3 linked regions of the Homo sapiens genome follow. The protein of the gene in region 2 purifies or fractionates together with the protein of the main gene of each other region. This does not show direct contact. Each region holds a gene or a part of one and is shown on either strand. Other genes may lie near its edges.

The links.
Region 1: the proteins of EXOC1 (region 2) and GOLGA5 purify together in Homo sapiens (affinity purification with mass spectrometry; 2 studies listed by BioGRID and IntAct, with this or other methods). This does not show direct contact.
Region 3: the proteins of EXOC1 (region 2) and GIT2 purify together in Homo sapiens (affinity purification with mass spectrometry; 2 studies listed by BioGRID and IntAct, with this or other methods). This does not show direct contact.

What each region holds. Positions count from the first base shown.
Region 1 is NC_000014.9:92,797,305-92,800,804, reverse strand, and holds part of GOLGA5 (golgin subfamily A member 5), read right to left. Parts: intron 3,398-3,500; 5' UTR 3,368-3,397; coding exon 2,824-3,367; intron 1-2,823. UniProt on the Homo sapiens protein: Involved in maintaining Golgi structure. Stimulates the formation of Golgi stacks and ribbons. Involved in intra-Golgi retrograde transport.
Region 2 is NC_000004.12:55,902,051-55,905,752, reverse strand, and holds the end of EXOC1 (exocyst complex component 1), read right to left. Parts: intron 3,410-3,702; coding exon 3,215-3,409; intron 1,411-3,214; coding exon 1,258-1,410; 3' UTR 667-1,257; downstream 1-666.
Region 3 is NC_000012.12:109,944,155-109,947,886, forward strand, and holds part of GIT2 (ARF GTPase-activating protein GIT2), read right to left. Parts: exon of another isoform or gene 3,351-3,732; coding exon 3,102-3,350; intron 1,196-3,101; coding exon 1,106-1,195; intron 1-1,105. UniProt on the Homo sapiens protein: GTPase-activating protein for ADP ribosylation factor family members, including ARF1.

The sequences.
Region 1 (3,500 bases), on a different chromosome or scaffold from region 2:
AGCTATGTCAACTCTTGACTTAAAGATCTCTACTAGCATCACACTGGCTATGGCAGCCACTTTCAACTTTTATTGGCTAAGAACCACCCACAGAACAACAACAACAAAATCAGATGCCCTGGCTCCATCCCCAGAAAATAACGATTCAGGAAGCCTGGGAAGGCACTCAATAATTCATTTTTAAATTAACAACACACAAGCGATTCTAAAGCCTGTTGTTCAGGAATCAATCTTTAACAATGATTATAGAAGTAATGGGTTTAATTGCATAAACAGTATGACACAAGGGCCTTCACAAACAGGTCCCAACTTTGTTTGCTAGCTACATTTTCTTCATCACCCTCCAACTCACTCAGTGTTTCCAACTTTGTTACAATGTTTTCTACTCTACTAGCCTCTTAGAGTCTGTTCTCTCTGCATGGAATGCTGTCTCTAACTTTTTACCTGGCAAACTCCTGTTCATTCTTTAAGACCCAGCTAAAAATACAGACCCTCTGTGAATCCTTTCTGAATACCCTAGGCAATTAGTTACTTCCTCCTTCATACTTCCACAACACTCTGACCATACTTAATTGCTACATTTACTAGACCACAAGTAAATTATCTGTTTACATGTCTAGCTCACCCACTGGACACTTCCATATCCTTGCACCTAGTAGGTTCTTTGTGTAATTAATTGAAAGATAGCTGAGAAGAAATTTTGGAATATGTGAACATATTAATCAACTGCTACTGCCTGATCCTATTTTCACAACCCAAAACGTCTTCTTCTATACAAGTTTTTGTCTTGAAAATACAAGAAAGATTTTATTCACTAACAGCCAAGACAATGAAAGAAGCTATAACATCCAAGAACATGACAATCTCCCATCAATAATCAACTCTATAAAGAATCCCTGGCCAGGTGTGGTGGCTCACGCCTGTAATCTCAGCACTTTGGGAGGCCAAGGTGGGCAGATGACTTGAGGTCCGGAGTTCAAGACCAGCCTGGCCAACGTGATGAAACCCTATCTCTACCAAAAAATACAAAAATTAGCCAAGGGTGGTGGTGCACACCTATAGTCCCAGCTACTCGGGAGGCTGAAATGGAGAATCGCTTGAACCCAGGAGGTGGAGGTTGCAGTGAGCTAAGATCGCGTCACTGCACTCCAGCCTGGGCGACAAAGCGAGACTCCGTCTCACAAAAAAATAAATAAATAAATAAATAAAAACATTAAAAAAGGCCAGGCACAGTGGCTCACGCCTGTAATCCCAGCACTTTGGGAGGCCGAGGCGGGCGGATCACAAGGTCAGGAGATCAAGAGCCTCCTGGCTAACAGTGAAACCCTGTCTCTACTAAAAATACAAAAAAAAAAAAAAAATTAGCCAGGCGTGATGGCAGGCGCCTGTAGTCCCAGCTACTTGGGAGGCTGAGGCAGGAGAATGGCATGAACCCAGGAGGTGGAGCTTGCAGTGAGCCAAGATCAGGCCACTGCACTCCAGCCTGGGTGACAGAGTGAGACTCCGTCTCAAAAAAGAAAAAAAAAAAAAAATCCCTATGGCCAGGCCACGGTAGATCATGCCCATAATCCCAATGCTGTGGGAGGTCAAAGTAGGAGGATCACTTGAGCTCAAGACCAGCCAGAGCAACACAGTGAGACACTGTTTCTATTAAAAATAATTTTTTAAAATTAGCTGGGCACAGTGGTGTGCACCTATAGTTCCAGCTACTCAGGAGGCTGAGGCAGGAGGATCGCTTGAGCCTGGGGAGGTCAAAGGTAGTGCGAGCTGTGATAGCATCACGGCACTTAAGCCTCGGCGATAGAGCAAGACCCTGTCTCAAAACAACAAAAGAATCCCTGCAAGAACCTACTATCAAGTTTTTTGCCTTTTTTCTATTTTTATCTTTGGAGACAGCGTCTCATTCTACGGCCCAGGCTGGAGTGTAGTGGTACAATCTCGGCTCACTGCAACCTCGACCTCCTGAGCTCAATCAATTCTCCCGCCTCAGCCTCCCAAGTAGCTGAGACTACAGGCATGCACCACTGTGCCTGGCTAATTTTTGTATTTTTTGTAGAGACAAAGTTTTGCTATGTTGTTTAGGCTGGTCTCAAACTCCTGGGCACGAGTGCTCTGCCTGCCTCAGCGTTCCAAAGTGCTCGGATTACAGGTGTAAGCCACCACGCCCAGCCTATAGCTATTTTAAAACAGTTAGTAGGTACTTGAATTAGCCACATTTACCACGTTAATCTCATTTCACAAGAAAGAAGGTGTACTTGTAGAGGTAATCTCAGAGGGAATTAAACAATTGAAAACAAGAGTTCTAAGCTCTTGCTTCACTACTAGGTCAATGCCTTCAACTCTTCAACTTGGATCAAAGTTCAGTCTCTCAGCTTTATTTGTGGAGGATGTGGGGGGAAAAACACACAAAAAACACAACCCAGAAAATACGTGAAGTACAGCCTCCTGTCATTTTTATAATCCTAGTAACAAAAAGATATCAACTGGGATAGTCCCCGATCCAAACTGACATGTTTTCTTTCAGATTTCAAAATTTTCTTTTTTTAATCTTAAAATGTCTTAGAGAAACAAATTTGAAATACTTTGTTAGATGCTGAGTGGGTGAAGTTGCCCTCCAGACAACATGAAGTCCCTGCTACAACTGTCTATTGACTAATAGTAGTCAATGATGTCTCCCTTGTTTACACCACACATTTGCAGAGAGTCTGCCCTTACACCAGTGGAGACAGATTCCATAACAGTAGATGAGAAACACCATCGGATCATATGATGACACATTCAATTTGCTTAACTCTAAAAGAAATAAGAGGACTGATTAACTACCGTGGGTTTGGCTCCCAAAAGAATTTTCTTCAATGGTTTTGATGGTGGTTACACTGGGGTTCACAGAACTGACACTTGATGTCTGAGAGCTCTGAAAGACAGGTGTCTTGCCTTTTTCCTTTCTGATTTCCACCCTCCCGGTAGGCTCCTTCTGTGAACTATTAAGAAAATCAAACAGCAGCTCATCATCAGGTTCTGACTTTTTTCTTCGCACAAAATGGGATGAAGGCCTAGGAACAGATGCATTTTCAACAGGATGAGAGGCCTCTACTGGTGTCCGAGATCCTACTTTCACATTTGCAGTGCCAGCTAAGATGGTGGCTTTTTGATTTCGAATGTTATCAGCTGCTGATGAAATATACGTAGATTTAGGTCCAGTCTGATATATCAAATCTGTATTTTGCTGGTGAAGTTCAGTATAGTCAGTATTTTTGCTATATATGTTGCTGGCATTGTCTTTCCTACTGAGAGCTGTTGCAGCCCCTTGATCAACTCGGTTTAAAAGATCTTCTGCCTTTCCAGCAAGATCAACAAACCAAGACATGATGGCAGCAGGATAATCCTATTGGCAAACCTGTAAAAAGGACATAAAATGATCAGTGTGGCATAGTGGCAGAGTATGATAAATGGTTAAGACCAGACTCTGGAGTCAGGCAATCCTGGGTTGAAATCCTAAC
Region 2 (3,702 bases):
TGGTCAGGTTCTGGTGAGGGCTCTCTTCCTGGTTTGCAGACAGCTGCCTTCTCATTGTGCCCTCCCACAGCAGAGGGAGAGTGAGCTCTGCTGTCTCTTCCTCTTCTTACAAGGGCATTGAGTCTATTGGATCAGGGTTCCTACTCTTCTGACCTCATTTAAACTTAATCGTCTCCTTAAAGACCCTATCTCCAATACAGCCACATGGGGGGTTAGGGCATCAACATAAAATGTTAGTAGGGCCACAATTCAGGATATAGCACATCTTTTGTTAGAGTTAGTCCTAAATACTAAACATCTTCAATATTATTATTTTTCTTATTTTTTTTTCAAGTGACAATATCTTGCTATGTTGCCCAGGATGGAGTACAGTGGCACAATCACAACTCACTCAAACTCTTGGGCTGGGGCAATCCTCCTGCCTCAGCTTCTCAAGTGGCTTAGATTATAGGCATGTGCCACCACAAAAAATTGTTCTTCTATGGAGACAGGGTCTCACTGTGTCGCCCAGACTAGTCTCAAATTCCTGGCCTCAATCAGTCCTCCCTCCTTGGCCTCCTAGAGTGCTGGAATTACAGGCATGAACCACTGCACCCGGCTTACTTTACTTATTATTAAACTTTTAAGTGTTTTGTGGTATATAAACTTGCAATTAATTTTTGTATATGGATTTTGTAAGAACTTGCTTTAATACAGAAGACAGCATATGATAGACCTAAAAATATTATCAAATGTCAACTTTTTTGAAAATTTATTTCACATTTATTACTAGTCACATAATCCTCAAAAATCTAAGTTCACAAATGATCATCACATGAGCCCTCTTCTCCATATACACATTTGTTAGTGTGAAAAAACAATTTTGTACAGTATTTTAGTAGTTACATGATTAGCAAGCAACAGAGAAGTAGTGAAAGCTGAAGAACTCCAAATGCATTGCTCATAGGACAACCACTCAAACACAAGCAGCTAGGCAATAAAGGAAAATTTCCCATCCAGTCATTGAGAAATGCTAAAGGCATTTTATGGTGACATGAATGCTTAAGTTAGTATGCAACCTATAGGGCAAATAAAACTGCTATATAGGTTGGTAATTTTGCATTTAAATATTTGTAGTATGGTACTACCCATTTATCTAACATTTAATAATACATAAAATTTTAAGTCTGGGTTCTCAAAACAGTTGCTTGGTATTTTGGTATAGTGTCTGTTATACTCAAATGCTTCATTCAGTTATCTTTTCTTCTTTCACAAGGTTTAGTGGGACTGTGCAATGCTGGAACAATAATCCAGAATGTCCTGAATAGTGAATTCCATTGTAACACCAGATCCAGGATAACAGCGAGCTATCAAACCTTCAAAGTGCTTATACTGGCGTATAAATTCATCTTGCATGGAGTGCCACACCACCTATTATTAAAAAAAAAAGTCATTAGGCTATGAATGGAAATAATATGTAATCTAGTATGCAGAAATAATGCCAAGGCATATTCTAAGAATTTGGGTAGTATAGTAGCTAGGAACATGCATTCTGAAACCAGAATCCCAGTCACTTTTACCTACAAGATTTGTAACCTTCAGTACATGACATCACTGCTCTATGCCTCAAGTTCCTCATCTATAAACCAAGATAATAATAAGACCTTCCTCATAATGCTGTGAGAATTAAATAAGAAATGTACATAAAGTGCTTCAAACTGCGTTTGACACAAGTAAGCACTCATGACATTTTAGCTATTATCTTATATACTCCAATATGCAACACAGATGTGGATATGCACAATTATGTATAGAACTAAGACTAGTGATTACATAAAATGTAATGCTTTAATTTCATTTCCTATAACATTTAAAGTTTTCTTTATCTAAAATTGTTGATGCAAAACCTTGCTTGATGCCTTGGAGGACAGCAAAATGACTCAGACCCATTATCTGCAATCATGTGATTTATAATCTAACAGTGGAGGCTAATATGTAGACAATTACCAAGACACAATGTGATACACACATTGACATAATGGCTTAAATAGATTACATTAATTGAAGCTTACTCTTTATCAGCACAGTACAAAGCACTTTATGAATATATTATAGTATTAAGTCTCATGATGACCTGGTGAGGGTGGGTATTATGATCATCTTCCCTATTTGACAGCTGAGGGAATGTATTCTTCCAAGATTTTTTCTTGTAAATCCTAAATCTCATAAATCCTAAATTCCTGCCAACTTAAGACCAATCGCTATTCCCTAAGCAGTGTTATGCTTTTTACTTTTCATCGTTTAGCTCATATTATTTCTTTCTAGAATGCTACTCCCTCCATCCCCACTTTGCCTGTTCAAGTACATCTGACTTTCAGAGGTTAAAACAAACAATGCAATATCCCTCAGGAAGTCTTCCATGATGTTGAAATCAGAATTACTCTCACTCATATCTGGGCCTTTCAATATGGTTTATAAAGAATAATGGCCTAATTTGGACTTTAAATCTGGCTCCACTACCCATTAGTTAAGAGAGCTTGGTCCTATTACTCCACCTCTCTAAGCTGATTTTCTTTCTTTCTCTTTCTTTCTTTTTCTTTCTTTCTTTCTTTTTTTTTTTTTTTTTAATTGAGACACGGCCTCACTCTGTTGCGTAGGCTGGAGTGCAGTGGTAGGATCATAGTTCACTGGAGCCTCAATCTCCTGGGCTCAAGTGATCCTCCTGCCTCAGCTTCCCGAGTAGCTGGGACTACAGGCACGTGCCACCATGCCCAGCTAATTTTTTTAATTTTTAGTAGAGACAAGGTCTTGCTATGTTGCCCAATACAGTGGCTACTGTACAAGAGATGTATCGTTTCCACTTATCAAATAAGGAAACTAAGGCTCAGAGAGGTTAAGTAACTTCCCAAAGTCACACAGCTTAATCTGGAGCCAGATTATGAACCCATCTCTAATTCCAACCACTCAACCAACCAACCAACCAACCAACCAACCAACCAAAGAAAAACAAACTTAATGCCTCACCATAATATAGCAGAAATACGAAATAAGCAGAAATAGCCATATATGCTTATATAAACAGTATTCCTTTCTTCCTCACAATTCATTAATCTGGTCTGTACTCTAATGGAACTCTCCTCCTGCTCTAGATCTGTAGCATTTCTAGAAAATTATTTAAAGAAAAGCAATATATGTAAGGATCTTTAAGTCAGATGGTCAAAAGAAGTAAGCATACCTGAAGTAAGTTCTCTTCTTCACATAAATGTTTATCAACTTTCTTGTAGAGGTTATCTAGACCTTTTTTTACTTCCTTTCCAGGGTACTCCTTAATGACTTTACGAAGTTCTTGTTTGTTAAATGCAAGTTGGTAACTTACTTCCTCCTCCCTTATGCCCTGTGCCACGCGAGCTTCAACACCTTCAAAGAAATGCTTCAAGGAAATGAAAAGAAACAATGGCTAAGACCTGCATTTATTATTATTTACATTAAAAAAATCTGATTACAAAGTAGTGTATAATCACCATGCAAAAATCAGTGTGTGAAAGTATAAACAATAAAATAACAATCACTTATTAACATACTTCTGAGATGAACATTGTTAATATTGTAGAGTTCCTTGTAATCTTTTGATGTGTGAATACATACAGGAGATTAAAATTTCATGTCCCACTTTACATTTAATATTGTTTTTTCCTAAATATAAATTTTAATGGCTGCATAATA
Region 3 (3,732 bases), on a different chromosome or scaffold from region 2:
ACTGGGCAACATGAGACTCTGTCTCTAAAAAATAAAAAATAAAAAAACGAATCCTGAAAGGGCCTTGGTAATCCATATGCCACTGGAACTAGGAAAGAAAGGCTCTCCATAATTCCTAGGTGTGGAGGGAATGGCAAAGGCCCAGTGCAAACCCCACCTTGCCTGTAAAGGTGGTCCCTTACCCACAGCCACCTTCCTCCTCTTACCTTACATTACCCTTCCATTAAAAAAGAGATGGAGCCAGAACTGGGACGTGGATTTCAAAGCCTATGCCCTTTCCACGGCTTTCCCAGGTTGTGGTCATGTACCACTCTTTATGCATGAAAGTATTTTTTAATTGACAGTGCCTTTGGGAGCAGGGGCTGTGCCAGCTAAGTCCTTAGGACCCTTTCATTGACTTACCCAAACGCTGTGTATGGAGGAGGTGCTTAATACTTACTGCCTGACTACTCTAAAAGAGGCTTACCTGAATCATGCACTGCTATTGAGACCATAAATTATACACCAGTAGGTGAGGTTTAACCAACCCGTACAAGTGAACAGCTTTAGGTTAACAGCTGCTTGCATAGCTCCAATGCCACAAGGTGTTACAATTCTGATTCAAGATGCAGGGACTTGTAAACCTTGGTTTGTCAGCACTTGTGGTGCTGACATAAAATGTGTCACAGGTTAAAAAAAAAAAAAAAGGCATGACATTTTAGTACTTCAGCGAGTCCACATACAGCAGTTTCAATCTGACAACTGTAGCCCTGAACAAATTGAACAAATTTGGCCTATTATAATATCTAACCAGCAGCCAGCTAATTTTCTCGTTGTTTAAAAAAACAGTTTGCTCAGAATAAATGCTGTAGGGTGATTTGCAAACTTTGTTAAATATGACGTGAACATGAGCAGTATGGGGTTAGAGAAAGGGAGGCGCCCTCGATGGGTGAGCGTGCATGTGGACGAGTGTGAGCCTGATGCACTGTGAGAAACCAGGAGGAAGTGCTGCCTCATGCAGGACGGAAGGGCAGTTAGCAGGGACAGGAGGGCCAGAGCCCAAGCACAAAGCGCCCAGGAGCACGGCCCCTCCTCCAGAGAGCAGACCATTCAGAATGTACTTAACCCTTCGGGCGCTTTCGTCCCTCGACCAGGAAAGTGTGGAGGGGAAGGAAGGCAGAGATGAAGAGGAGGTCACAAGTGCACTCCTCCCGATCTGGAATGGGAAAGAGAAACACACTCGGGAAAATACAAAACAAACCAAAAACCTACCACCTTGCCAGCTTCAGTAAAAGAATCCTGGAACACCACACATTATGTGACGTGAGTGCTGCAATCTCAGTGGCCACCAGTGACAGGACCCCAGAGATGCTTAAACCCTTGGTGAAACACCTCCTGGAAATTACTCTGAATTTAATAAGGCTGCTTTTCCATAAGGGAAATACCTAACATAATTTGTCAAACTTGTCAATAATTTTTTAATGGATACTATGAAATGCATATTTGTTTTTCAATCAGGACTGATGTGAAATGAGAAACTATAAAAATGATTCTAAGTTGCTATACACTATCAATCTAATTTTTAGTACAATTACAGTGCCTTCCTGATATATCTTTATATTCTAATTTTTTCTAAAATAAGAAAGTACACTGAAAAATAACAAAGTTGCTTTTCCTAAATTTTGTCTTCAGCTATACAAAAATAAGATTCTTAACTTAGGGTGGGCATGGTAGCTCACACCTGTAATCCTAGCACTTTGGGAGGCTGAGGCGGGCGGATTGCCTGAGCTCAGGAGTTTGAGACCAGCCTGGGCAACATGATGAAACCCCGTCTCTACTAAAACAAAAAAATTAGCCAGGCACAGGACCATGTGCCTGTAGTCCCAGCTACTCAGGAGGCTGAGGCAGGAGAACTGCTTGAACCCAGGAGGTAAAGGTTGCAGTGAGCTGAGATCACACCACTGCACTCCAGCCTGGGTGACAGAGCGAGACTCCATCTCAAAAAAAAAAGATTCTTAACTTAGTTCAGTGGCATTCCCATTACATCAAATGTATCAAATCAATTGCCTTAGAATGTTAAACCCAAATATCTTAAAAAGAATCTGAGATAACAGACTCCCAATTATAGTAAAACAATATTGTAATTTTACCACACTGAAAATTGACAAAATTAAACTAGGGTTTAATTCACGAAACCATGTCCTTGCTTTGCATCTACCTTGAGAATTTTTTTGGAAACTCCCATAAAATTTGACTGAAGAAATAATAAACTTTGACACTCAAAAAGACAAATACTACTCTCTGAAAAAGCATCCCATGAAAAAGTTTAAATGTAACATCTTGGCAAAACACATATTTTTATAATAAAGTAATCCAGAAGAAATATATTTGAAAACCTTATAACACAGTATGTATCCCAATGCAAAATAAGATTGTAAGAACCCTGCTGCAGAACACAATCTCTGGAATTCAGCGCTTCTAAGACTGATGTAGAGTATTACATTTCCTTTTCTGAGACAACAAAGCCACACTTCCCCCACCACGGTGGGAGGAGCAGGATGCAGAAGCGAACCTAGCAGGCACACTGAGCACACATGGAGAGGCTGCGGAAGCCTGGAGCCTTCCAGCCTTGCCTGGGTACCTGGGCCACAGACTCAAGGCCACCTGCTTGAGGAGGAGCTGAAAAGACGTCTTGGATTCTAAGGGCTCCAGTACTTAAAGGGGCACATCCCTGTCTAGCTCCAAGAAGGCAACACTTCCTTCTGAGAGTGAACTTTATGATTTATTTTTGTTTTTGGAAGTAGAGAAGGAAGGAAGCTTTACCAAAAAAAGTTCCAACACTGGCTGGTTGAGAAATAATCATGGATGTGGGGGAGAAAAAAGCAGCAGTTCGGGCAAGAGCCAGAATCCCCAACTTGGTTAGGAAACCATCAGCCCATGGCCCTGTGTGCTTGTGGGAATATCGCAAGCATCTGTGGACATGTTAATACAGCAAACACAATGGTAACTCTCTTAGTCCAATTTGGCAAAGCAGAGCTGTGGGGACCTGTAGGTTCAGAAGAGGGAACAGAGTAGACAGGCTGCATAGAGTGAACAGCAGAAGCGCCAGTGGTGTTACTTACGTGCGCGGGGAAGGGCTGGAGTCTCATCCTGCTCTCTTCGGGGCGGCTCGCTTCTCCCATTGGGAGATATGGTTTCTGACCTGATCCGGTCTCGTACATGGACATGGGCCTACTGCCCCGGGCAGACGGACGTCTCTTTAAGGAAGAGTGGTTGGAAGTGTCTGTGTACTCAGAACCAGTTTGCACCTGATATACATTGGTTGTGGCCTGTTTCCTGAGGTTCGAATTTTCACTCTGGAGTGTTTGAAGCTGAAAGAAATGTTTGGCAGTGGGACTGTGTTTTTTTACAGCAAGCAGAAAAAGCAAACACCAAGTAAATGAATACAACTACCAGTTTTAAACAATAAGGACAGTAACAGCTAGCCGGGCTGAAAGTAAAAAGCCAATACAAACAAGGACCCTTTCTTCTGGATTGGGTGAAACACAATCAACTCCCTTCATCACGTAAGCAAATTAAATAGCTTCATTTCTGAATGTGGAAAAGTTGTGGTTTGGACTTCCTCAAAACAAAATGTCTAACCACTTTAAAATTTGTCATGGTGGGGCTGGGAAATGTTTGCAGGCAAGCTGTACACTGGATTATTACTAAGGCTGTTTCAAGCAAGAGTTCGAGATCATTAAAACATCATTT